Linked DNA regions of Homo sapiens: all the other regions are linked to region 3. The links come from fine-mapping of genetic effects on gene expression. A gene starts in region 3. Each other region holds a variant in brackets. All regions are shown on one strand. Distances are from middle to middle. Region 1 overlaps PDE6C (phosphodiesterase 6C). Region 2 has its middle 25 kb from the start of FRA10AC1. Region 3 holds the start of FRA10AC1 (FRA10A associated CGG repeat 1).

Region 1 (8,000 bases), 61 kb after region 3:
CGTACCTCATCCTGCAACAGAGTCTTACTGTACTCCAGGTGGTGCCTCTCCAAAATAGAAGAACCATGAAGTCTTGCTAATGGAGACGTGGATCTAGAAGGAAAACAACATGCCATGATTCTAGCTGTTTAAAAATTACACATAGGTTCATACAATTCAGGATTTTTCTTAATGTCTCTCTTCTCCCTCCTCACTCAATTATCTGTGAAGTGGTCAAAAATAACATATTGGAAAAGATTTTCTAGATTTAGAAGATGAGAATATGCTCTTTTGGAAAAAAAAAACCTTAATTTGTTGAATGCATAAATGATTTAATTGTTTAAACTAAGGAGTTCAGCTCCTTGTATCTAAATTCTTTAAGTTCCCTGGGGCTTATGGCGGTGGACTATGACTTATAAAACATATAGCAAACATGTGGAGGCCCATAGGTTATCTGCATAGAACCAAGATGAAAAGCACTATAAGGTAACATTTCTCTCCTCCCCCAAGACAGTGAGATAAATGTATCTCCCTGTTCCTTCCCATTTATTAACAATTAGATCACAGCTTTATATAAGTAGGGGCCCCAGTCTTTTGTACCCTGTTTTTCTTCAATGCCTTCAGGGTAAAAGAGGCTGATGTCAAAGGTCTAGAGATTATGTGAAGACTCTCATGAAAATATAGAATAAATAATTTTAAAGAAAGAAGAAATAAAAAACATGGCTGGTAGCCTTAGTAGAGAAGCTTTATTTATTTCATGGAGAACAAAACTTTAGGCTGGGAGAGGTCATTGCCAGGTTACTGGCAGGTCAGGGAAAGCAAATACTTTAGTTGGGGAATAATTAGGCCATATCTGATCAATATTACAATCGATCATAATTTTAACACATATTTAAACAACTACTCTGTGTTGGCATTAGAGATTTTTAAAAAAATGAGTAAATCCCAGTTTCTATAACCACCAAACTGCTTTCTATCTTCTGAGATCCACTTTTGAAGCCTCCATATATGAGTGAGAACATGTGATATTTGACTCTCTGTGCCTGGCTTATTTCACTTAACAAAATAATCTCCAGTTCCATCCATATTGCTGCAAATGACAAGATTTCATTATTTTGGTGGCTGAATAATATTCCATTATATATATACTATATCGATATAGTGTATATATACTATATATACTATATAAATATACTGTATATGTACTATATATATACACTATATATATGTACTATATATAGTATATATATAGTACTATATACATACTATATATATACTATATATATATATATACACGCACCACATTTTCTTTATTTGAAGATAGAGAGTAGTTTGGTGGTTATCAGAGGCCAGGAAGGGTAGGGAGGTGGGAAGGATGAAGACAGGTTGATTAATGGGTACAAATATACAGGTAGGTAGAAGAAATAAGACCTACTGTTCAATAAATTAACAGAGTAACTATAGCAAACAACAATCCATTGTTATTTCAAAATAGCTAGTAAAGAATAATTTGAATATTCCCAGCATAAAGAAATCATAAATGTTCAAGGTGATGGATATCTCAATTATCCTGATTTGACTATTGCACATCATATGAATGTATCAAAATATCATGTACCCCAAAAGTATGTATATCTATTATGTAGCAATTTAAAATGTATATTTTTAAAAATGAAAAAGCTCAATTCTAGTCAGAAAGGAGTGGTATCTTTAATTCCTTTAGGTTTAAAAACATTAGTTAAAAAATGTTATTGGGAAGCTAGATATTAATCTGATCTCAAACTAACGTTTCACGTATTACTTATTAATTGCAAAGGAGAAAATGTTCCTTTACATAAAGAGATCTTCTGGACATCGCCCATAAATAAAATTGATATCATGGGCTTCTTGACACAATGCATTGAGAAGGACACAGCATCATCTATGTAGTATTCCTGCCAAAAAAATGTTTAGTCTGAATTTATTAATCAGGAAACAAGTGGTTAAATCCAAATTGAAAGATATTCTGCAAAATAGTTGGCCTAGACTCTTCAAAAACATCAACATCCTGAAACACACAAAAAGGTTGAGCAACTACTCCAGATTAAAGGAGATTAAAGATATTTGACAACTAAATGCAAAGTGTGCTCCTTGATTAGATCTTGAATTAGAAGGAAAAAATAGCTATAAAGGACATTATTGTGGTAATTGGAAAATTTTTAAAAAACACTTTATATTAGGTAATATTATTGTACCAATACTGAGGGTGATCATTGTATTGTGTTTATGTAGGTGAATGTCCTCCTAATTCTTAATAAATATATGCTGCAATATTTAGGAATGAAATCTAGTATTGCAGCTGACTCACAAATGATTTAGTGAAAAAAAAAAAAAAGAATTAGTTGGCCACATACAGTAGCTCAGGCCTGTAATCCCAGCACCTTGGGAGGCTGAGGCAGGAGGATTGCTTGAGCCCAGGAGTTCAACACCAGCCTGGGCAACATAGGGAGGCCCTGTCTCTACAAAAACAATTTAAAAGTTAGCCAGGCATGGTAGCATACACCTGTAGTCCCAGCTACTTGGGAGGCTGAGGTGAGAGGATTGCTTGGGCCCCAGAGGTCAAGGCTGCAGTGAGCTGTGATCATGCCACTGCAGTCCCTGGGTGACAGGGTAAGACCCTGTCTCCAAAAAATATATATATTATTTATATACACACACAGACATTCACACACACTGACAGTCTGCAGTCAGGAAGCCCTTCCATCACCACATGCCCATACAGTTGAGTTTACAGAGGAGGAATGATGAAAGAAAACCAGGCCAATGCAGAGGGCAGGGTGTGGCTGCATGCATCTTTCCTGCAAACCTGGAGGCAAGATGGCAACTTCAATCCTGCTACTTCCTATAACCTAGGGAAGGTTTAACTTCATCTTTTGAGCTCATCAGTTAAAGTGGGGGATACTAGTACCTCCTATATGGCACCTCCCTTCACTGTGCTGTGAAGGTTAAATGAGGCAGTAGGTATCAAGTCCTTACTAGCACACAATAGATGCTCAATTTGTTTCTCTGGAACTGAATTGGCTAGTATACTACTGATCAAGAAGGAGGACGAGGACTTCAGTGACTGTCAGGGGACTTGCATTCTGGAGGAGCGAGCGGCCAGTGTAGGCTGGAACCTTTGAGATGAAGATGTCTCTTGCCTCAAGTCTGGATGGAGATCATCTTTTCAAGACAAAGCCTAATAATAGGTAGAATTGCTGAAGATGAGGAGTCACTGCTTACAAAGTGCTTTTCGCTCAATGAAATTATATATGTGAAACCTGCCTAGCAGGCACTTTCTCAAGTAGGTTTCACATATGTAATTTCACTGGATTCTCACAACAATCTTT[G/A]AGAGGTCAACACTTTATACATCTCATGGCTAAGAAACTGAATCTCAAATAGATTAAATGACTTGTCCAAGATCCCCCAACCAAGAAGTAGTTGGTCCCCACAAACCCAAGACTCCAAAGCCCATTCAGTCTGTCTACAACACTTCACTACTTCTGGAGAGGGGTAGTTCATGTGTCAGAAATGAGAATGAAGTGTGGCTAAGGCAGATAGACCATCTTAAAACCCATTATCAAGGAACTGGGCTGGCCATGAGCAATACTGGTGAATGAATAGTCCAATGACATCACAACAATAATAGTAACCATAATAATACCTGAAGTTTATTTATTTATTTATTTTCCGAGACTGAGTCTTGCTCTGTCACCCAGGCTGGAGTGCAGTGGCGTGACCTCAGCTCACTTCAACCTCTGCCTCCTGGGTTCAAACAATTATCCTGCCTCACCCTCTCAAGTAGCTGAGACTGCAGGTGCACGCCACAATGTCCGGCTAATTTTTGTATTTCTAGTAAAGATGGGGTTTCACCATGTTGGCAAGGCTGGTGTCCAACTCCTGACCTCGTGATCTGCCCTCCTCAGCCTCCCAAAGTGCTGGGATTATAGGCGTGAGCCACCGCACCCAGCAATCATACCTAATATTTATTAACTGCCAAGATCCTACCATGAGTTGAGGGCTTTATATGCATGATCATATTTAATCTTTACAACAACCTTATGTGCTGGGTACCATTACTATAATTCTTACTTCCCAGATGAGGAAATTGAGGCTTAGAAAGTTTAAATAATTTGTGACCCAGTGAATCCAAATCTGCCTGAGCCCAGAGCTTGCACCCTTCTTATTGTACTTCCTTTCTTGGGGCAAGAGAGAAAGATGGCATCGATGTTAAGATGGAAGACCAGCTGAAGGAGAGTTTGGCAGAAGCAAAAAGACCAGGGAGGTGAAGGGTAGTGAGCCCAGGGGTAGTATTCTCTAGCCTGAGCTGGGGAGTGCTCCATAGGAGTGTACAAGTGTAAGCCTAACATTCATGTACCTTATGTACTTGTTTTTTATTTTTAATTTTTTTCGAGACAGAGTCTCTCTTTGTCGCTCCAGCTGGAGTGCAGTAGTGCAATCTTGGCTCACTACAACCTCTGCCTCCTGGGTTCAAGTGTTTCTCCTACCTCAGAGGCACACGTCTACCTCCTATAGACATGTGCCTATAATCCCAGGTGTGCCACATCCGACTAATTTTTGTACTTTTAGTAGAGACAGGGTTTCACCATGTTGGCCAGGTTGGTCTTGAACTGACCTCACTTGATCCGCCCGCCTCACTCTCCCAAAGTGCTGGGATTTCAGGTGCGAGCCACTGTGCCCAGCCAGATTCATGCACTTTAATATAGGAATTCAATACTCTGATTAAACAAAGTTGAGAGAAGAAAGCCTGAAGGCCTATAGGAAGAAGGCAGAGGCACATCTGGAAATGAAAACAGAAAGGAAAGGGGGACGCAAGAACCTAGGGAGAAAGAGCAACGTTATCGTGAAGGCGGAAGCTTGGGAGGGAATAGAATCCAGCCCTGGAATTTCCAACATGGCAAAGAGGCATTGACTGGGCCAAGGAATAGGGAGAAGCGTTTTTCTCACCCTAAGTACTTTCCAATGTCCACCAATACGTGTCAACATTGGACATGTGTTCACTTACTTCATCTGGTACAAATTATTGGTGCCTCTGTGGTCAATATCATGGCAGAAAGCAGCAGCAAGCATGGCAAAGGCTTCGAGATCTGTGTAGTACTTCTTTAATCTTCCTGTCTAAAAAAATAACATATATATGCATATCTATAATTTATTTGAATTAATATACCTCTATACCAAGTGCAGCCTGCAATAGAGAATAGGCCCACTAGGTTTCTGGAGCAAGTTCACTTTATTTGTTGTGAGTATTGTAGTACTGTGGGTGAAGACTGAACCTTCCTTTAAGAAGGTAAGTGTGTGAATGTCTGAATGATCATCCCACCGGTGCTCAAGGATACTGGGACTCATCTGCAGCGGAGAGGGGTTTGTGCCCTGAATTTTTAAATTACTGATCTAAAATGATGGACCATACCTATTTCTCATCATGCTCAAATGGGAAATCTGCAGGTTTACAAGGATTTACAGCCCTCTGTACCTACCATCAGCAAAGTAAACATGGTCTGCCCCACGTTGAACCCATGCCGCCAATTGTGGTAAGTGACAGCTCGGTACCCTTTCCTCACAGTGTACATCCATCTGGTAAGAACCTAAAAGAAGATGACACCATTCAGACTTTGGAATAGAATTCTAAAGGTTAGAAGGTCTGTGGCAATCTTATCTAAAAAGATGTGTTGGTCTTGTAGATAGGGGTTAAGCTGATGTATTTAGAAAGTTAATAATAATTTAAAATTCAAACTGAGTCCATCTTTTGAACCACAGAAAACATCAGTGAAGCAGAGCCACAGAATCACACAGTATTTTAAATTAAATACCCTCTGACCTCTACAGGTACTTTGAATTTCTCCACCACATTTATTTCAAAAAACAGTCGTATTCCACATTTAATCAATCCGTGCTCTGTAAGGGGGAAGTCACTGAAGCGGAATTCGTACAGTTCTGCTGAGCGTGGGTCTGGCAAGTCCTCTTTCTGTTGAAATAAGGATGGGTTGTTTCAGATTACATTCATCTGTTTTCCCTTTCCACTCCCATAGCCAACATTGGGTGTAAACCAAAATTACAATAAAAGAACACAATGTGTGATTCACTGAACCACCATGTGCCAGGCACTGGATGATGCAGTTTGCACAGATTATGCTAACGGCAGGCCTACACGATTATCTCCATTTTACAGGTGATGAAACTGAGACTTGGCCATATTAAAGACTTTCTAAGTGATGGGTTACCATTCTAAATCCAACTCCAGTAGCTCTTTTCTTTCAATGATGCAAAATAAAATGTTTAGTTACAAAAGCCTTACTCATTTTTGATACTCAACTTTTTTTCTGTTCAAGAAATATTCAGTAAACAGTAAACGACTGCTTAATTCAATTCTCTTGAATTTTCTTTATGTGCTCAGTGACAGTTTCCCACTAGAATGTGAGCTCCCCGAGGGTGGGGATCATCTGCTTATTTGCTGCCATATCCCAAATCTGCAGGTCCTGTCCCATGAAGGTGCTCAGGAAATGCCTGTTGAATGAATGAGTGGATGGATAAACCAATGATTGCCCTGCAGTACATAGGTATACTTGCAGACATTTCATTTAACTCACATCTGGTTAGGATTTCGGATTATGTGAAAAAATAGCCAAGTAGACACATGGCATTGGTGCGACTTGAGAAATAAAAATATGTATCTTGCCCTTAAGGAACTTAACTTATTAAAGTGGCTATAAAATATATACGAGTGAAAAGTAAGCACTTAGAATAATCAGAGAGTATGGCCAGTGCTCCATGCCGAGGGAGAAACTGAATGTCCTTGGACAGGTGGGGAAATTAAAGGAGGAGAGATGCTGGAGGGACATGCATGCAGCTGAGCTGGCAGAAGGAAGCGGAGAGACGATTCCATGTGGGTGAGAAAGTGCTAAGAGGCAGAAATGAGCAACAACTATGTGGGCCTACCAGACAGATCTGCAGGAGAGATTCAGTTCAATGGGTATTTATTTGAATGTGTAGTATGTCCTTACTAGTGCACTGAGGAGGACACAAACATAGGGAAAGGGAGGTCACTCCCCTTAGTAAGTTTAATGTTTTTCAGGGGACAGCCATGCTCTATTTACACAGATTTCAACACCGAATGGTATATAGCTATTTAAAACAAAATTACGGTTTCTGGTTCCCCCAGCCCCTGAGCCTGGGCTGACCCCTCACACTCTTGCACAGAACTGTTGCTACACCCAGAAAATCAGCTGAGCCTTCCCTGGAGGTAACATGAAAGTGCAGGCCTGGAGAGAGACTCAGGTACGTGAAGATGGACAAATAATTACGTAGCTGGGAAATGATGCCAGGATAATTTTGGAGAACTCCTCTGAAATATTTGTTACGTTCCTCAATTTTATGCAACAATGATTTGGGATTTGCCCTGAGTAGATTTTACATTCAAAATAGGCTGGTTTTTTAGGAAGTCTACTGGTTCTTTGTCCACTTTATTGCTTCTACAACATAAGATCCTTCTTCCTTTAAATAAGAAATTAGAGAATTTCTGGTGACACGGATGTCAATAAAAGTTTTGTTTTCCAAGAAGATGCCTATTGTTGAGGGCAGGTGGGGAGAAGAAAGGGTGGTCTTCTGGGCCAGGCTGAGAGGATGGTGCCAAAGGTGGAGCCAAGCAAAATGGGAGAAAAGGGAACCTCAGATGACATGAAAACACGGGGGTGGGAAGTAAGCCCCAAAAAAGGGTCAAAGACCAACAGTCTTATGGTAGCAGAGCAAAGGCCCTGGGTGGGAGGACAGAGCCCACAAAAGATGGAAAGGGAGAAGGTGAGATAGTCGATGTGTCTTAGTTTAGAAAGAATGCTCACATCACAGATCGGAAAGAGATGGTGGAAAACAGGTTATAGCAGTTAGTAAGGAAATTAAGTGTGATATTTCCATTTCAATCAGAAGGAATTCAATCCTCTGAAATTCAAGGTCTTGGGGTCTTCGTAAATATCCCAGGATTTCATGGA
Region 2 (8,283 bases), 24 kb before region 3:
AACATGAAGATGATGAGGGTGAAGATCTTTATGATAATCTACTTCCGTTTAATGAGTAGTAAATATACTTTCTCTTCCTGATGATTTCTTTAATAGCATTTTTTCTCTAGCTCACTTTATTGTAAGAATACAATATATAGAAAATATACAAAATATGTGCTAATCAACTATGTCATTGATAAGTCTTCTGGTCAACAGTAGGCTATTAGTAATTGAGTTTTTGGGAAGACAAAAAGTTATGCACAGATTTTTGACTCTGCAAGGGGTTAGCACCCCAACCCCTGCATTGTTCAAGGCTCAACTGTAAAATAACATGTGATTGTGAAGGGTTTTTATTAACAATTTTAGGCATTGTTGTCATGTAATGGAGATGTTTGAGGGCCACAGGGAGAACCGCTAGAACTTTCCAAATCATGCCAATTAAGTGCCCACTTGGTCACACGGTTATTGATTTTTACCTTAGTGTAAGAGCACTTACTCCCTTGTTACCTTAAATTCCTTTTGCCACCCATCTGGTTCTCCAGTTTCTAATTAAAATTTGGAAGTTTCATGAAAATTCGGCAGGAACAGTTTTTATGAAATGTTCGCTACAGTGGAGCAGATTGTGCTGCTCATCCGAGGCAGCTCTCAAACTAATTTAACTCTCAGCTCTGTAGACTTCATACAGAAAGGCAGGGGAAGCAAAAATGGAGCTGTGATGAATGATGCCAGTTGAAATGCCTCATGCTTCTGACTCATTTCAGAACCATTATCATCTCGATAGAAACATCCCCTCTACCCTCCATATTTTTGCGAGGAAACGTTACTAGAAAAGCAAGGTCCAGAGAGAAGCAATGCATTAATGTTGTGATTAGGCTTAAAGATAAAGCAGCACTGGACATCCAGAGTTGTCTTGGTCACTGGATCAAAGGGAAGAAATAGCATTTGAAGATATGGGAAGGGAAAAGTCTACATACCTAAAGCAGGGCTGACATCATATGATGATAAATAGCTGTTACTTACTAAATATTTACTCTGTGCCTGACACCGTGATTATAAATAAATGTTCTCGTTTGATTCTCAGAATTGCTGAATTAGTCAGGTGAGGCTAACAGCCATAACAAACACCCTCAAATCTCAGTGGCTTGATATTTTAAAGGCTGATTTTTACCCATGGCACAGTATGGGCAGAAGGCGGGGGAGGGATTCAGGTTCCTTCCTGAATAAACTCACCCTCCCCAGGACCTTGAAGTTCTTCACTGGATCTTCTGCATCTCACTGGCAGATGAGGGTAGAGGGAGCAAGTTCACATGGCAGGGACCCCATGGGAGGGTTCTTAAGATCTAGGCCTGGATATAGCATGCATCACTCCTGCCAACATTCCATTGGATAGAATGCAATCACATGGCCTGCCTAGCTGCAAGAAAGGTTGGGAAAAGTGCACAACGACTATGACCAGGAGGAAAAAGAAAGTGTGAGGAACACATAGTCTCTGACCTAAGTACTTATCATTACCCCCATATTACAGATGAAGCTGAGTTTTAGACAGGTAAAGCAACTTGCCCAATAGCACATAGCAAGTAAATGGTAGAATCAGGATAGGTTTTTGGCATGGTAAGTTCTTGGAAGAGCCCAAGAACCTGACTACAAGTTATTGAGCTTTGCAAGTAGAGCAGAAACTGTCACATTTACGGAGCACGTTCTACAAACCTGGGCATTTTTTTTTTGAATTTGTGGACATTACAGTGAAATATGTAGACATTATAGTTTTCAACACTACGATGGAAAGACAATAGTGGGAACAGGGTGAGGACAAGGTAATCTAAAGGTGATACCTCTTTAAGTACTTGATTCCCCGCAAAGGTTCAGGTCTGGTCCCCTGGCTTGCTCCCCAGGTGTTAGATGATAGAACTGAGCTCATCTTTTGCTGCACGCAAGCATGCACCCTTAACCACTGCAGACTCTCTCAAAGATTTATTTAAGATTCCCTTGTTTAACAGCACCTACTTTGATATGGCTACAGGGGAACCTACCACATTTTAGACTTAGGTGCAAAGCATTAGATCTTATCCCACCACTTCCTTGTCTCACAGAGCAGTGGTAGTCCCAGTGTGTCACCTGAGGCCTAAGGTGATGAATTTATTTCCCTACGCTGTGTTCAGGCCATGTAGAACTATCAATATCCACATAAACTCACCATGTTCTCTTGACTCCCGGCCTTTGTACTCATTGTTCCCTCAGCCCCAATGAGTCTAGAATCACTGGTGTGGACCTAGATGTCGGCAATTTTCTTTAGCTACTCAGGTGGTTCTATTTTATGGCCAGGGTTGAAATCCAATGACAAGATCAGTCTAAGCCAATCGTGGCCAGTCACATTCTCCTTGGCCAGATCAGTGAATGAACATACTCCTTATCAATCAACATAGATAGGATTTTGGGAAGTCAATTCTCATGATATGATCACTATCAGTTCTCTGATTGTCATAGACTATCTTGAGTGTATTTTCAAGGCCCCCTTGTATTAGTCATTTCTCACACTGCTATAAAGAAAAACCTGACACTGGGTAATTTATAAAGAAAAGAGGTTAAATTGGCTCACAGTTCTGAAGGCTATACAAGAAGCATGGCAGCATCTGCTTCAGGGAAGGCCTCATGGAGCTTTTACTCATGGCAGAATGCAAAGTGGGAGCAGGCTTCTAACATGGCAGGAACAGGACCAAGAAAGAGAAGAGAGAGGTGCTACATGCTTTTAAACAACCAGATCTCATGATAACTCACTCACCTGCTATCACAAGAACAGGACCGAGGAGATGCTGCTAACCCATTCATGAGAATTCTGCCACCATGATCCAATCACCTCCCATCAGGCACCACCTCCAACAATGGGGATTACAATATGACATGAGATTTGGTGGGGACACAGATCAAAACCATATCACTCCTATAACACTTTCAGCTTGTTCCTATCATAGAATTCTTCCTTGTTATGCAATAGGCCAGCCTGGGAGATGCTGCCCTAATGATTTGGAAGACTGTCTACTCCTATGTGCCACTGTAGCTCAGTAGGGCACCCTAGGGCCACCGCCACTCTGCAGAACACTGAAGTGGTGACAGTGGGTTCTAGTTCTCTGCACCAAGTCTAAAATGTGGTAGAAAGGGGAACTTTCAAAGCATTTTGTACACGTTGTGAGGAAAGAATGATTGCCGCTTTAAATCTTGACTCCTCTGTACACCACTTGGCCCTCAATATAAAATCTGTAAATAGCCCTGCCTTTCTACGTCTCCCAGCTCCCCACCCTGCATGGATTCTGTGTCCAGACAAGTGAAGGTTTCTTGTGGCTGACCCTGAGTTTCCTGCTACTCTGCCTTTGGTCACACTGTTTGCTTTCCTAGTATGCTCATCTCTTCCCCTTCCCAAACTCCTCAAATGTTACCACCTTAAACTAAAGCTAAGGGTTTCTAGGTTCTCCAGCGGAGAGTGGAGTCAAGAAAAGGGTTCTAGGAAAATTTCAGGGTGTGGATGCTGCATCTGTTGATCCAGCCACCTAGGCACTATAGATGTACCTTAGGCACAAAGTGGCTCTGTGTGTGTAAACTGGAAGGTCGGCACCCCACAGGTGCTGTGACATCAGAAGCTCAGACCTGATTAGTGCAGTTGTTCCAAGGGTGGGCACAGTCCTGGAGCAAGAGAGAAAAAGAGAGAGGGAGGGAGAGACAGAGATAGACACACACACACAGAGAGAGAGAGAGACCATTTATCACCTAAAAATCTCTAAGAATCTTTTAGGACTGTCAATAGTTATCTGTCTT[G/A]ATACTGTAGTAATATTAAAACAAATAGGGTCTCATTCTAGATAACTGAACTTTATGGTTTTTGCACTGATGTAAAGCAACACAAACAGCAGACAACAGAGCCCTTTGGTGGACTCACCAGACTTTCTGGTTTCTTCTATGAGGTAATATTAACTAATTAACAATGAATAAGTTAATCACTTTGGACTATCTGCTCCTGGTACTTCTATCAGGGTACTTCATGGGAAAAGTACCCTATAGGAGTAGGATAGGTTCCCCTGATCAATAAGATGAACTTCAGTTATTATGGTTTGAGCACCATATTAGTCTGTTTTCACGCTACTGATAAAGACATACCCGAGACTGGGTAATTTATAAAGAAAAAGAGGTTTAATGGACTCATAGTTCCACATGTCTAGGGAGCCCTCACAATCATGGTGGAAGGCAAAAGGCACGTCTTACATGGCAGCAGGCAAGACACAGAATGAGAGCCAAGTGAAAGGGGTTTCCCCTTACAAAACCGTCAGATCTTGTGGCACTTATTCACTACCATGAGAACAGTATGGGGGAAATCGCCCCCATGATTTAATTGTCTCCCACAGGGTCCCTTCCACAACACCTGGAAATTTTGGGAGCTACAATTCAAGATGAGATTTTGGTGGGGACACATCCAAACCACATCAAGCACTAAAACAAATGAGACATTATTTTGCACCAAAGGTAGATGAAGCAGGACATGCCAATCAAATTGATGAAATAAAGCACCTTTAATTTTGTGTCTCATTTACTTCCTCAAATTTCTGATGTACTGAAATGATTCAGTAAGTGCATACTAAGGGCTTGTCATCTGCTGGGCACTCTTGAAAGTGCTGGAGTGTGGCAGGGAACCAGGTAGAATGGTCCCTAACCTCAAGGAGCTTCTGGTCTGTACCTAGAAGCTCTTGCTCTGTTTTCAGAGTCTCTCTTTTGCTGGTATCTGGCTATGATAGAGGGAATTCAAAAGCAGCTTTAAAATGTTTTCTGCAGAAGAACAAAGCAGTAGTTACCAGTATGAGAAGAGGGGAATTGCTACTTTGACACCTACAAATTGAAGGATGGATGCCTTTGTTTCACATCTGTTTTCTCCATGTGAGAAGCAGCCAGCTCCACTGATTGTGTACTGTTGAGGGTGACCACTCCATTTTTCTCTCCTGGAAACATGTAATTTAATGTGAAGCATCTATTGATGAACTGCAAGTATGAAGAATTCTCAGGATAATGTACTTGATTTTCCCCTTGAAATGCAATTCACATTTATTAAGTATCTTTTCTATACAAGGCATGGAGCAAGGTGCTTCATGCACATAATCTCATTTAAGCCTCACAGTTGCCTCTGAGGTAGGTGCATCATTAGCCAGCTTTTATAGACAGGATAAAAGGGAAAAGAGGAAATGGTAGCCCAGGATTCCAAAAAGTGCAAATTCATTTCCAGTGGATGAATACACTTATGATTTTGTTTCTCTTAGATGGGTTATGATAAACATCTTTAATATTAATACCTGCCTTACATTTGCATAATTCTTTCAACTTTTCAAAGCACCTCTTTTATACCTTATTTGATGCTCATGCTAAGCCCTATGCTCCTAACAGTCTCGAACTCCTTGATGGTGTCTCTTTGAGAGCCTAAATCTCTGCAGAGCTGGCTTTTGTTGCATAGCTAAGGTTCAGGACTAAGCTAATAAAAATCTTGCTTCCAGACATCTAATCTGCATCTTCATTTGCAAGGTCTCCTTGGGATGGTGTGACCTGCTGTTTAGTAAGGACATCAGTGCTCTCATACCAGTGATTACTATGGTTACATCTGCCCCAACATTCTCTAAAGCCCTAGATTTTAGAAATATTGGTGTCTTTACTACCTTGTCCTTGTCTGGATCTTCCTGTCATGCCTGAGTTAATGATAGCCAAAGGGAAAGGAATGAAATAAAAAGAAGGAAAAAGACAGCTCTGCGAGCTTGTACACTGAGGTGCATATATTCTCAAAAAAACCAGAAACCAGCCTAAATGAAGAGGGAGGGGATGGTGGCAGATGAAGCATAAAGCAGGTGCTTACTTAATTGCTGCAGCTGGTGCCAAGTGTTTGGCATAATTTTTCTCCTTATTTTCAATTATTGGCACTGTTATTTTACTTTTTAGCTGAAGCATCTGAGAACAGTCTAGGAAGCTTCTCTGCTCCTCTCACTTTTACAGGAAAGCAAGCAGGCATTTTTTTTCCTGAAAATATTGTAAATAAACACAATCCTTGAAATTTTTTCTTGTGCCCCAAAACAACTCATCGACTATAGAAAAGGAAGAGAAATTGGCTGAAATGCAATTTGACGTTTTCATTCTGCCAAAATTACTATGGGTTGAATTTTTAATTTGATTCAGAAGACGATTCAACTCTTCAGCCTCATCTATGTGATTTTGATTTCAGAATAGCATGTCTGAGACCAGAGCTTCCTAAGCTGTTTTCTTTTAAAACACAGATTGTTAAATTCTCCAATTGACATGGCATATTCATTTTGCTATTTGACTTTTTTCTTTTAAGTAGTGAAGGTAAAAGTTGCAAAAATATTGGATGAAAGTCATTTCATGCCCTGTTATTCCACCAATTTTTAAGAAGAGTAAGCGCTGTGCCAAAACCTTATATAGAACAATGTGCAAAAAACAATACAAGGACCCATGAGGAATGCAAAGATAAACAAGATGTAGTCTTTTTCTTTCAGCAGATTTAGTCCTGAAAGGAGAATAAAATGAGTACAAGCAGTAACATAACAGTTTTGAGGGAAGTAACAATGATATGCTAAAAAAAAAACAGCACACGTCTATCAATTACTTTTGATGGCAGATCTAACATAAAGAAAATAAAAATGTTTCATCTTTCTCCCTTTTAAAGTAATTCTGCTTAGAGAATGCTATTTAATCACTGTATTTAAGGTGACATTTGAATTCTGAAGGTTTTATCTCCTATTGACTCTATTCTAGAGAGAGAGAGAGAGAGAGAATACGCATGTGCACAGTTTTGAGCAGAAAAAAATATTTTTATTTTAGAATTTTGTTTCAGATTGCATTTCAGGAAAAGGAAAGGAGAAAAATCGTGCTCCCAGAGGGCATTGGGAAATGTGGGTTACAGTCTTGTTTTCACCTTCAGCCATTTGTGTTTCTGGGTTCCTGAGTGCTTAGGCTGGGTTACTCCAAGTTTCCTTTCAGTCTTCATAGTCTGAGTGTGATGCCTCGCATCTTGTCCTGAATGAATCCAGTGGCTTTCCCATAGGGAGCAAAGGAAACTGAAGGCTTGAGGGAGTATCCAAGGTGCCAGGAGGTGTAGGGAAGAAAGAATGGTACTACTGGATGAGACACTCTTGGGCCTCTCGGTTTTCTTAACTTCCTATTTAAATACTTCATCATTTGTAGAAAGCCTTAAGTTCAGAGCCATTCACAATTTATACTGGGTCTGATTCCTTTTCATTCCCACTGTAGCATTGGCTTTTAAGAATGTAGAAGCATGGCCTAGCCAAAATATATATATATATGATTTACAGGCTAGTTAGAGTTTGTGCTGAGCTGTGTCTGCAAATAAGCCTTTAAGGTAAATGAAAGAAGTTCTAAAGAACCTGAAAAGGAAATGGGAGAGAGTGTGATGTGACAGTGAGGAATGTCATTTTTCTCTGTGGTTCTTTCCTGTCTAATTTCACAGCCAGCAACCTGGTCCAGGCTCTAATTAACCACATGTCCATAGGCTGCTGCTGATGCTCTAACAATATCCAGTCTTCAGACTGTTCCTGTCCAGTTTACACATCATTGTCCTTCCTCAAACACTCCCTTCACCATGGTGCTTCCCTAGGCAGTGATTTATTATGAGTCCTTGTTACCTGGTACAACTCATCTCTTTTGTTTATTTACTTATTTATTTATTATGATTACATATATTTAAAGTATACAACATGGTGTTTTGATATACATAGAGCTAGTGAAATGATTACTGCAGTCAGGCAAATTTACACATCCACCACCTTGCATGGTTACCTTTTTGTGTGTATTTGTGGCAGAAGCTTCTAAAATCTATATTAACAAATTTTTAGCATACAAAACAATATTATTAAACTCTAGTCCTCATGCAGTCCTTTAGATCTCTAGACTTATTCCTCCTACCTAACAGCAAGTTTATACCCTTTGACCTACATGTCTCCATTTTCTCCCAATCTCTGCCCCTAGTAACGACCGTTCTACTCTCTATTTCTATGTATTGGACTTTTTAAATATCCTACATACAAGTGAGATCATGCCATATTTTTCTTTCTGTGTCTGGCTTATTTCACTGAGCGTAGTGTCTGTAGGTTTATAAGTGTCACAAATGGGGATATCTCCTTTTTTTTTTAAGGTTGAATAATACTTCATTGTATACACAAGAATTGTACCACACTTTCTTTATCCGTTCATCCACTGATGGACAGTTAGGTTGTTTCCATATCTTGGCTATTTTGTGAATAATGCTGC
Region 3 (8,283 bases):
TTTCCACCTCTAATCCTTTACCGAAACTCCCTTGCCTTGACTGCCCCCTCCTCTCCTCTCCTCTCCTCTCCTCTCCTCTCCTCTCAAGAGCTACCTTTAAGTCATAGCTTAAGTCCCACTTCCTCTACAAAGCCTTTCCTGCCTCTTACTAATCCCTCTGTCTCAATGTATGTGGTACCTTTCCTCCATAAAAAAAGTTTCTAATTCTTTTAAGTATCACAAACCACCATGGGCCTTATTGAAAGGCAATATGTATGGTGGTCAATAGCGTGAGCTTTGGGCTAGGTGCTGTGGCTCACACCTGTAATCCCAGCACTTTGGAAGGCCGAGGTGGGAGTATAGCTTGAGCTCAGTAGTGTGAGACCAGCCTGAGAAACATAGTGAGACCCTGTATCTACAAAAATCTTTTTTCAAATAGCCAGGTGTGGTGGCAGCAGCCTATGGACCAGCTACTAAGCAGGCTGAGGTGGGAAGATTGCTTGAGCCTGGGAGTTGAGGCTGCAGTGAGCCATGACTGTGCCACTGCACTCTAGCCTGGGCAACAGAGAGATAACACTCTCTCTCTACTTATCTCTCTCTATATATACATATATGTGTGTGTGTATATATATATGTATATATTTAGTATTAGTACTCACATTGCTATAAAGAACTACCTGGGACTGGGTAATTTGTAAAGAAAAGAGGTTTAATTCACTCGCAGTTCTACAGGCTGCACAAGAAGCACGGCTGGGGAGGCTTCAGGAAATTTACAATCGTAGTGGAAGGTGAAGAGGAAGCAGACATGTCTTACATGGCAGGAGTAGGAGAAAGAGAGCAAAGAGGGAGGTGTTACACACTTTTAAACAACCAGATTTCTTGAAAATTCTATCACAAGACAGCACTAGGGAGATGGTGGTAAACCATTAGAAACCACCCCCATGATCCAATCACCTCCCATTAGGCCCCACCTCTAACATTGGGGATTACAATTCAACATAAGATTTGGCTGGGGACACAGAGCCAAACCATATCACACACACACACACATATATATGGTGTGAGCTTTGAAGTCACTTATATTTGTGCCCCATTTGCTTACTCATGACTCTGGAAGTGTTATATAATTTTTTTAAAAAAATCTGTTTTCTTATTGTAAAATAGGGATAATAATAGTACCCACTTCATTTGTTCAATAAATATTCTGAGCAACTATCATGTGTCTGGCACTGTGCTGAGCACTGGGGATTCCACACTGAAAAAGAGAGGTATGCTTCCTGCCATTGTGGAGCTTGCATCTCAGTGAGGGAAACAGGGCTAAATTATTACTACGTATGTAGCTAAGTGCAATGGAAAGTAATGTGCATATTATCAGTAATCCTATCTAGTCTGTGGGAGAGATGCTCATGAAAGGCCTTTCCTTCACCTAAGTTGAGTTTTGAAGGATAAAGAGGAGTTAGGGAGGCAAACAGAAAGGGTTTAAGACCATTCCGGGTAGAGGAAATGGTAAATTTGAAGAGGCATGCATGTTGAAGAAACAAAGAAAGCCCAGCGTGGCTCCATAACATCAAATGTTATGGAGGTTAAGTGAGACAGCAGATGGTTCTGGATATTTATCGGTATATAACAAACAACCTCAAAGTCTTAGTGGCTTGAAACAATTATACTTATTCTGATTATTAGTCTGCAATCTGGGTGAGGCTCAGTGAAGTTACTTCATCTCTGCTCCACTCCATGTCAGCTAAAGAAGTAGAGTGACAAACCCAGGCAGAAGCTCTAACACCTTTTGCAACTTAGCATCAGAAGTGTCTTAGCATTACTTCTGCTATAGTCACTGACATGCCCAGATTCAAAGCTGTGGCCATAGGTATTAGCTTATGTTAGAGAAGTGTCAGCATCATATTATAAAAAGAACATGGAAAATGCAATCTTCTCAAAGACACACAGTATTAGAAGAATGCATATTCAGCCAGGCGCAGTGGCTCACCCCTGTAATCCCAGCACTTTAGGAGGCCAAGGCGGGATCACTTGAGGTCAGGAGTTCGAGACCAGCCTGGCCAACATGGTGAAACCCTGCCTCTACTAAAAATACAAAAATTAGCCAGGCATGGTGGCTCACACCTGTAGTCCCAGCTACTGGGAAGGCTGAAGCAGGAGAATGGCTTGAACCCGGGAGGTGGAGGTTGAGCTGAGATGGCACCACTATACTTCAGCCTGGGTGATGAAGTGAGACCCTGTCTCAAAAAAAAAAAAAAGAAAAGAAAAGAAAGAATGCACATTTGTTGGGCGCGGTGGCTTACGCCTGTAAGTCCAGCACTTTGGGAGACCAAGGTGGGTGGATCACCTGAGGTCAGGAGTTCGAGACCAGCCTGACCAACATGGTGAAACCCCATCTCTAGTAAAAAAATACAAAAATTAGCCGGGCGTAGTGTGCGCCTCTAGTCCCAGCTACTCGGGAGGCTGAGACAGGAGAATTGCTCGAACCCAGGAGGCAGGGGTTGGAGTGAGCTGAGATCACGCCACTACACTCCAGCCTGGGTGACAGAGTGAGACTCGGTCTTGAATAAAAAAGAATGCACAGTCATAGTTTATATCAGAATTATTACTTGGTATTATCACCACCATCATCACCCAACTTCCCTCATCCTGACCACATACTTAATATAGTATTTTGTTGCTTTGAGTTACATAGCATTGGTGCACATTTAAATTTTCATATCCATTGAAATAACATATTTTATAAATTAGGAACAACAGGTTCATGCATGTACTAGACACTTGGTATATGATAGAATATATTGTTGTAGTTATTCCACACATTGTCTGTCTTACTAGTCAACCTTCAAGGATAAGGAGTTGCTGTTACATACCTGTAACCCTGATGTCTAGGGCAGTGTCCTGCCCAGAGTAGGCACTGAATAAATGTTTGTGTTTTTTATTGTTGTTGAGCTATAATTGTTAACTTGAGATTTCCTAAGCAGGTGGGTTTTCTATCCTGTATTATTTCTAGTTCAGATCATGCAATCTATGCCTAATATATATTTTCTATTTACTCTTTTTCAGTAACTGCTGTCTCAAAGTAAAAAATGGAAATCTTTGCCTGAATGGACTGGTAGCAACAGATCTGAAATTCTTAGAAATGTTGGAACCAGAAGCTACTTCCCACACAATCCATGAAGTGGGGGAGAGAGAGACAGAGAGAGAGAGAGAAAAGAGAGAAAGAGAGAGAGAGAAACTGGGTCTTATAGAGAGACAGACACAAGTACTACCCAGTTCTCGACCCTCACCAGGTTTGTGGCTTTAGGTTCTGTGCCTCTCTTCCTTATGTGTAAAATGAGGCTAATAACACAGCAGCACAGGGTTGTTGGAAGAGTAAAATGAAGCAACAAACAAGAAGATGCTAGGGATGGTAGAAAAATGCTAATAAATGTCAAATATGGATAGAAAGGAAATTGGATATGAGGTATAGGTCTGTTTAGTTTTATTAACAATAAAATAATTATATATTTAATATATTTACCAAAAAAGAAACTGCTTGACAAAATAATTCCATATACTATAACGTCAAATTGTAAGGCTTCCTATTGCTTTCACTTTTTTTAGTAAAAGTTTTTATTGAAGTATAATCTGATTGCATTTTGGAATAAGTTAATTTACAATAATTTAATTTATCTTATAGCCTTTTAAGATCACATTCAGTGCAATGGATAAAGCAGAATGTATCTATAATTTATTGTCAGGGTTAGAGACTTGAACTGATAAGGATATCGTTATCTACTGTTTAGGGCAAAAGATGTAAAATGACTGTGCATTAAGTGCCAAGGTTTTCTCTAAAAAGGGCCCACTGTAAACGCCAGAAGCGTGCCAGTTCAATTCAACAAATATTTAATTAGCACTTGTGATTTCCAAGGCACCGTTTTGGGTACTGAGGAGGAAGCAAAAAATGAATAGCTGCTAATGCCAGCGAGAGACAAGACATGAACCAAACAACTAGAGTGGAAAGAGTGGGGCGTCGTGATGTAGAAAACGCAAAGCACAGGAAGAACCTAGTGGCGCTTAAAATAATCCAACTTTTCCTGCCTTTTTTCTTCTTCTTTTTAAGATTCTATTTTGGATCCCTTTTCGCATGTGCCAGGTCGCTTGTCGGCAGAGAATCCTCAACCCTGAGAAATCTCTCCTCCTATTCTTTCTTTCCTCACAAATTCGATGAGCTCTTCTGCCATCAGCACTGCTTTTGGAATGGTATCTATTGTGTGGGTGGCGAAACGATGGAGAGATATTTTTGTTCTAATTATGAGAACTGTTTTACTGGGGGAAGGAGGGAGAGGCTGATCTGAAGCGCTGATGAGCTGCTCTGAGAGGATCCTCCGAGGAGGCGTTACTAAGGTTACTAGAGAGAGGACGGCAGGTGATAGGCACGGTAAAACAAAATATATTTTCAAATGAGAGGCGTGGGCTAAGCAGCAAGCAGTGCCAGCGGTACTAGATGCCGGATTCCCTAGAGGGGAAAGGAAGGAGGCCCAGGGAAAAACTGGGAGCCGCGACTTGGCGAAAGCTGGAAGCCTCTTCGTCCCTTTCCGGGCCGTTTCTCCCGCTGCCCTTGTTTCCCGGAGCTGTTCTGGCTGTAGCACAAGGTCGGCGCACTCGGGGGACGGTGCCATTTAGATGTAACACGTGGCCGTGTCGGACCGGAAGTGGTGCCCAGTCGGGACCCGTAGGGAGAGGCGGGTTGCGGGCGGCGGCGGCGGCGGCGGCGGCGGTGGTGGTTGTGGCGAGGCTGTGCGGCAGGGCGCACGGGACCTGTGCTGCAGCGGCTCTCTCAGGCCGTGGGTCGTCGCTGCAGCTGCCGGGAAAGAAGGAAACGACGACTCCGGGGGCGAACTTGGCACACAGGGAGGAAGGGAAAGGGTGTGTGAGGAGGGCTGTGGGTATATTTGGCATCAGGGAGAAGGACCTCAAAACTTGTTTTTCATATAGTACTAGCTGATCGTCGGGTTTTTTTTTGTTTTGGTTTGGTTTTTTTTTTTTTGGATGACAGATTCTGGAGACACCTGGCATCTCCGTTTTTGAGTTTCTCCCCGCTCTTGTCAGTTGATTCGTAGGCCTGAAGTGAGTGAGAGCTTTTTAGTTCAACCAGTGAGTTAAGATAGGTATGGGTCGGATGGAGCGGCCAGCGAATAAAGAAATGGGAGAGTGGGAGCAAGAATAGGAAGTCGTGTCCTGGGGCGAGGGAAAAGATGATGATGATGATGTAACATTTACTGGGTTTCACTGTACAAGACACCGTTAAAACCCTTTAGATGAGGCAACTCTTTTAATCTCCATTCGTATGAGGTCAGCCATCTTACTAGCCTCTTTTTATAAATGAGGACACTGAGGCTTGGAGAGGTTAAGGAACAGGCCCAAAGAAAGACAAATGGAAAGTGCAGAGCCAAGCAGTGAAATCTAGTAGGCTGATCCTAGAATATATCTCTAAACACACTACAGCTGTCCCCCATCAAGATGTAAAGAACGTGAGGACATAGGACAAAGAGTGAGAGGACAATATGGCTTGAACAGATGTGGTAAGACAGCTGGAGTTGACCTAAAAAAGGGTGTAAAATCCAGGTGTGTAAGGCAATAACAGATGTAAGGGAGGGTAGAGTTGGAACTCGGGCTTTCAAACCTTCATCTCCAACCTTAACTAGCATCTTCCTATCTAGGATTTTAGTGGGGCAGAGAAGAGAGGTATATACCCACACACCTATGTTTGAAAATGGAATTACAGACTTTAAAGGTTATTTAAAGATTTAAACAACTTAAAGATTATTTCATGTAGCTATCTTATTTAATAGATGAAGTCCAGGGAGATGAAATGACTTATTCAAGGTAGCCAGGACTAGAAACATGTCGTTTACCCTAGATCCAATGCAATGAAGTTTAGAGAGTTCTTTCCTCTTTTTCCAGCTGCACTTGCTGTCGTTATATTAGTTTTAACAATTTGATATATCATTTAACCTGGACTGTTCCTTCCAGCCATGTAAATTAGTTATGTATGACATCAAATAGTCCATCCTTCCTTCTTAGTGTGTGTTCCAAATTCAGTGCAAAGCTGGAACTAGGAGCTTCTTCCAATACAATTGAGTGGCAACTGAGGTCTTCCAGCATTTCTAAGAATTTCAGTTCTAAAATGAAGTCCCAGCATTTTGGGATGCTGAGGTGGACGGATTGCTCAAGCCCAGGAGTTTGAGACCGGCGTGGGCAACATGGCGAAACCCCTTATCTACAAAAAAAAAATTTTTTTAAGTTTGCCAGGTGTGATTATGCACTCCTGTAGTCTCAGCTACTTGGAGAGGCTGAGGTGGGAGGATTGATTGAGCCCAGGAGGTTGAGGATGTGAGCCATCAAGGCGCCACAGCACTCCAGCCTGAGCAATAGAGCGAGACTCTCCAAAAATAACTGGATAAATAAAATGAAACAAGAGAAAGCTGACTAATCCAAAGGGCAAGGTGGTTTACCTTAAAGAAACTCAAAAGAAAATGGAAATCTCTACATATATTGAAAAAGATTACAGGAAAATTTTCATCAATTGATGATGTACTGTTCACAAATACTGTAATTCTCCTGGAATATAGTAAATCATATTCCAGAGAGGAAATTTGGAGTAATTGAAATTGTGGGCGCAGGAATCAAGTACAGCAGATTAGCCACTTACTGGATTTGTAAATAGATTTACTTAACTTTGATTACTTCATTCCTAAATGAAGATAACTTTCTAACTTGCAGAATTAGAAGTGTTGTTTGTAAAGTATTTAACACAATGTCTAGAACAAAGTTGGTGATAAACACACAGTGATTATTACTACTCTGAATCAAAAGTGAAGGATTGCTAAACCTTGTAAGCAGTCACTGCAGCTTTTAGGCCTGGTTTTTCAGTGAAAAGATCAAAGAGTAGCCTTCTTTGTTCACCTAATGATAATTAAGGGTGAAAAATGTTGATGCATTTCCTGAAAGGTATGTCTCTTATTTAAAAGCGAATGAAAGTTTTAGATGGCTAGATGGCCTGTGAATAGGAATCTGCCCACAATGATCCTTTAAAACTATTGTGGCTGTTTAAGATAACTTATTTTTGAATTATTGTTTCCTGGACAATTGGCAACATAGATTCTAAATAGCTGACTTTGTACTCCTTTACAGATGCATGGTCATGGAGGCTATGATTCTGATTTTAGTGATGATGAACGCTGTGGAGAATCCAGCAAAAGGAAAAAAAGGTAAGTAATTTTTTTTTATTGATCTATTTTTCACATCCTTTCTAGATTAATATGAAGTATAAATAAACAAGAGTGAAATTTTTGAATTCTGTTTACATGTGAAGACAATTGCTCTAGTGAATGAATTTTTGTTCATTAAGCTAATACATTGATTAAAAATTGGAGAACAATTGTGGGAAAAATAAAAATTAATTCTGCAAAGGGGTTTATTGAAAGGGAAAGAAGAGTTTCAGATTTCTGGAATCTTTTCAGAAATCAGTGAAACCTTTTCATTACATATATTTTTCATTCAACTGTCAAGGACTGTTTATTTGTAAATGTTGTAGCTCAGAAGGGGCTTGAATGGTGGTCTCTTGCCATTACTTGCCTTCAAAGTGAAGTTAATATGGAGGATGAAAGTATAATGCAGCACAGTTCTTACGCATACGTGAATGAGCAGACTAAGGTCACGGGAAGAAACTCAAGGAAGGTTTTTTTGAATTGCAAGAGACAAAAACTCTTAGCACATAAAGCCTGTGCGTTATAAGCAGGATACGTCTTGGTGGAGCTGCTGTGCGTAGGAGCATTGTTCTTAGCTTTCAGTGCATAGAAACTCAGTTTTATACTTTGACTCAGGAGTGGTTGACTGATGTATACTAACCAAACTTACACGGCTGTTGACTGATTTTTTTAAGCAAATGTATAGAAATTGGCTTATTATTTCACACTGAGAGCAATATATTAGGCATACTAACAGGTTCTGAACATTTTTATAGGATACTCAGTCTCTGCAATAAAGGATAGTACTAATTATAATAAATTACATTTTTGATGCTTTACATTTTCTAGATTTTTCATTCAAAAATACTACTTTGTAAGAATAGAATTTGAGCAAATCTAGTTGGATACTCTGCTCCAGGATTATATTCATCACTATAACTAGGGCTGACAGTCTATGGCAGGGTGTCCAGTCTTTTGGCTTTCCTGGGCCACATCGGAAGAAGAATTGTCTTGGGCCACGTACTACAGTGGAGCACACACAATTGTGAATCTGTTGGTTCACATTGTTGGC

Evidence for each region.
Region 1: its variant is fine-mapped to the expression of FRA10AC1 in whole blood (TOPMed, PIP above 0.99).
Region 2: its variant is fine-mapped to the expression of FRA10AC1 in skeletal muscle (GTEx, PIP above 0.99). The same link has a PIP of 0.9 or more in tibial artery, tibial nerve and whole blood.

Annotation. Positions count from the first base shown.
Region 1 is chr10:93,638,053-93,646,052 of GRCh38, reverse strand. It overlaps PDE6C (phosphodiesterase 6C), which reads right to left. Exons shown (of 22, transcript NM_006204.4): 12 at 5,837-5,983; 13 at 5,496-5,603; 14 at 5,024-5,133; 15 at 6-93. Among named protein-coding and RNA genes, the nearest start is that of PDE6C, 30 kb to the right of the region's middle. The variant G/A (reference allele first, on the strand shown) is at 3,348.
Region 2 is chr10:93,723,473-93,731,755 of GRCh38, reverse strand. No RefSeq gene overlaps it. Among named protein-coding and RNA genes, the nearest start is that of FRA10AC1, 25 kb to the right of the region's middle. The variant G/A (reference allele first, on the strand shown) is at 3,790.
Region 3 is chr10:93,698,979-93,707,261 of GRCh38, reverse strand. FRA10AC1 (FRA10A associated CGG repeat 1) reads left to right here and starts at 4,670. Exons shown (of 14, transcript NM_145246.5): 1 at 4,670-4,887; 2 at 7,156-7,232. The coding sequence starts at 7,156. RefSeq lists an enhancer at 4,382-4,681.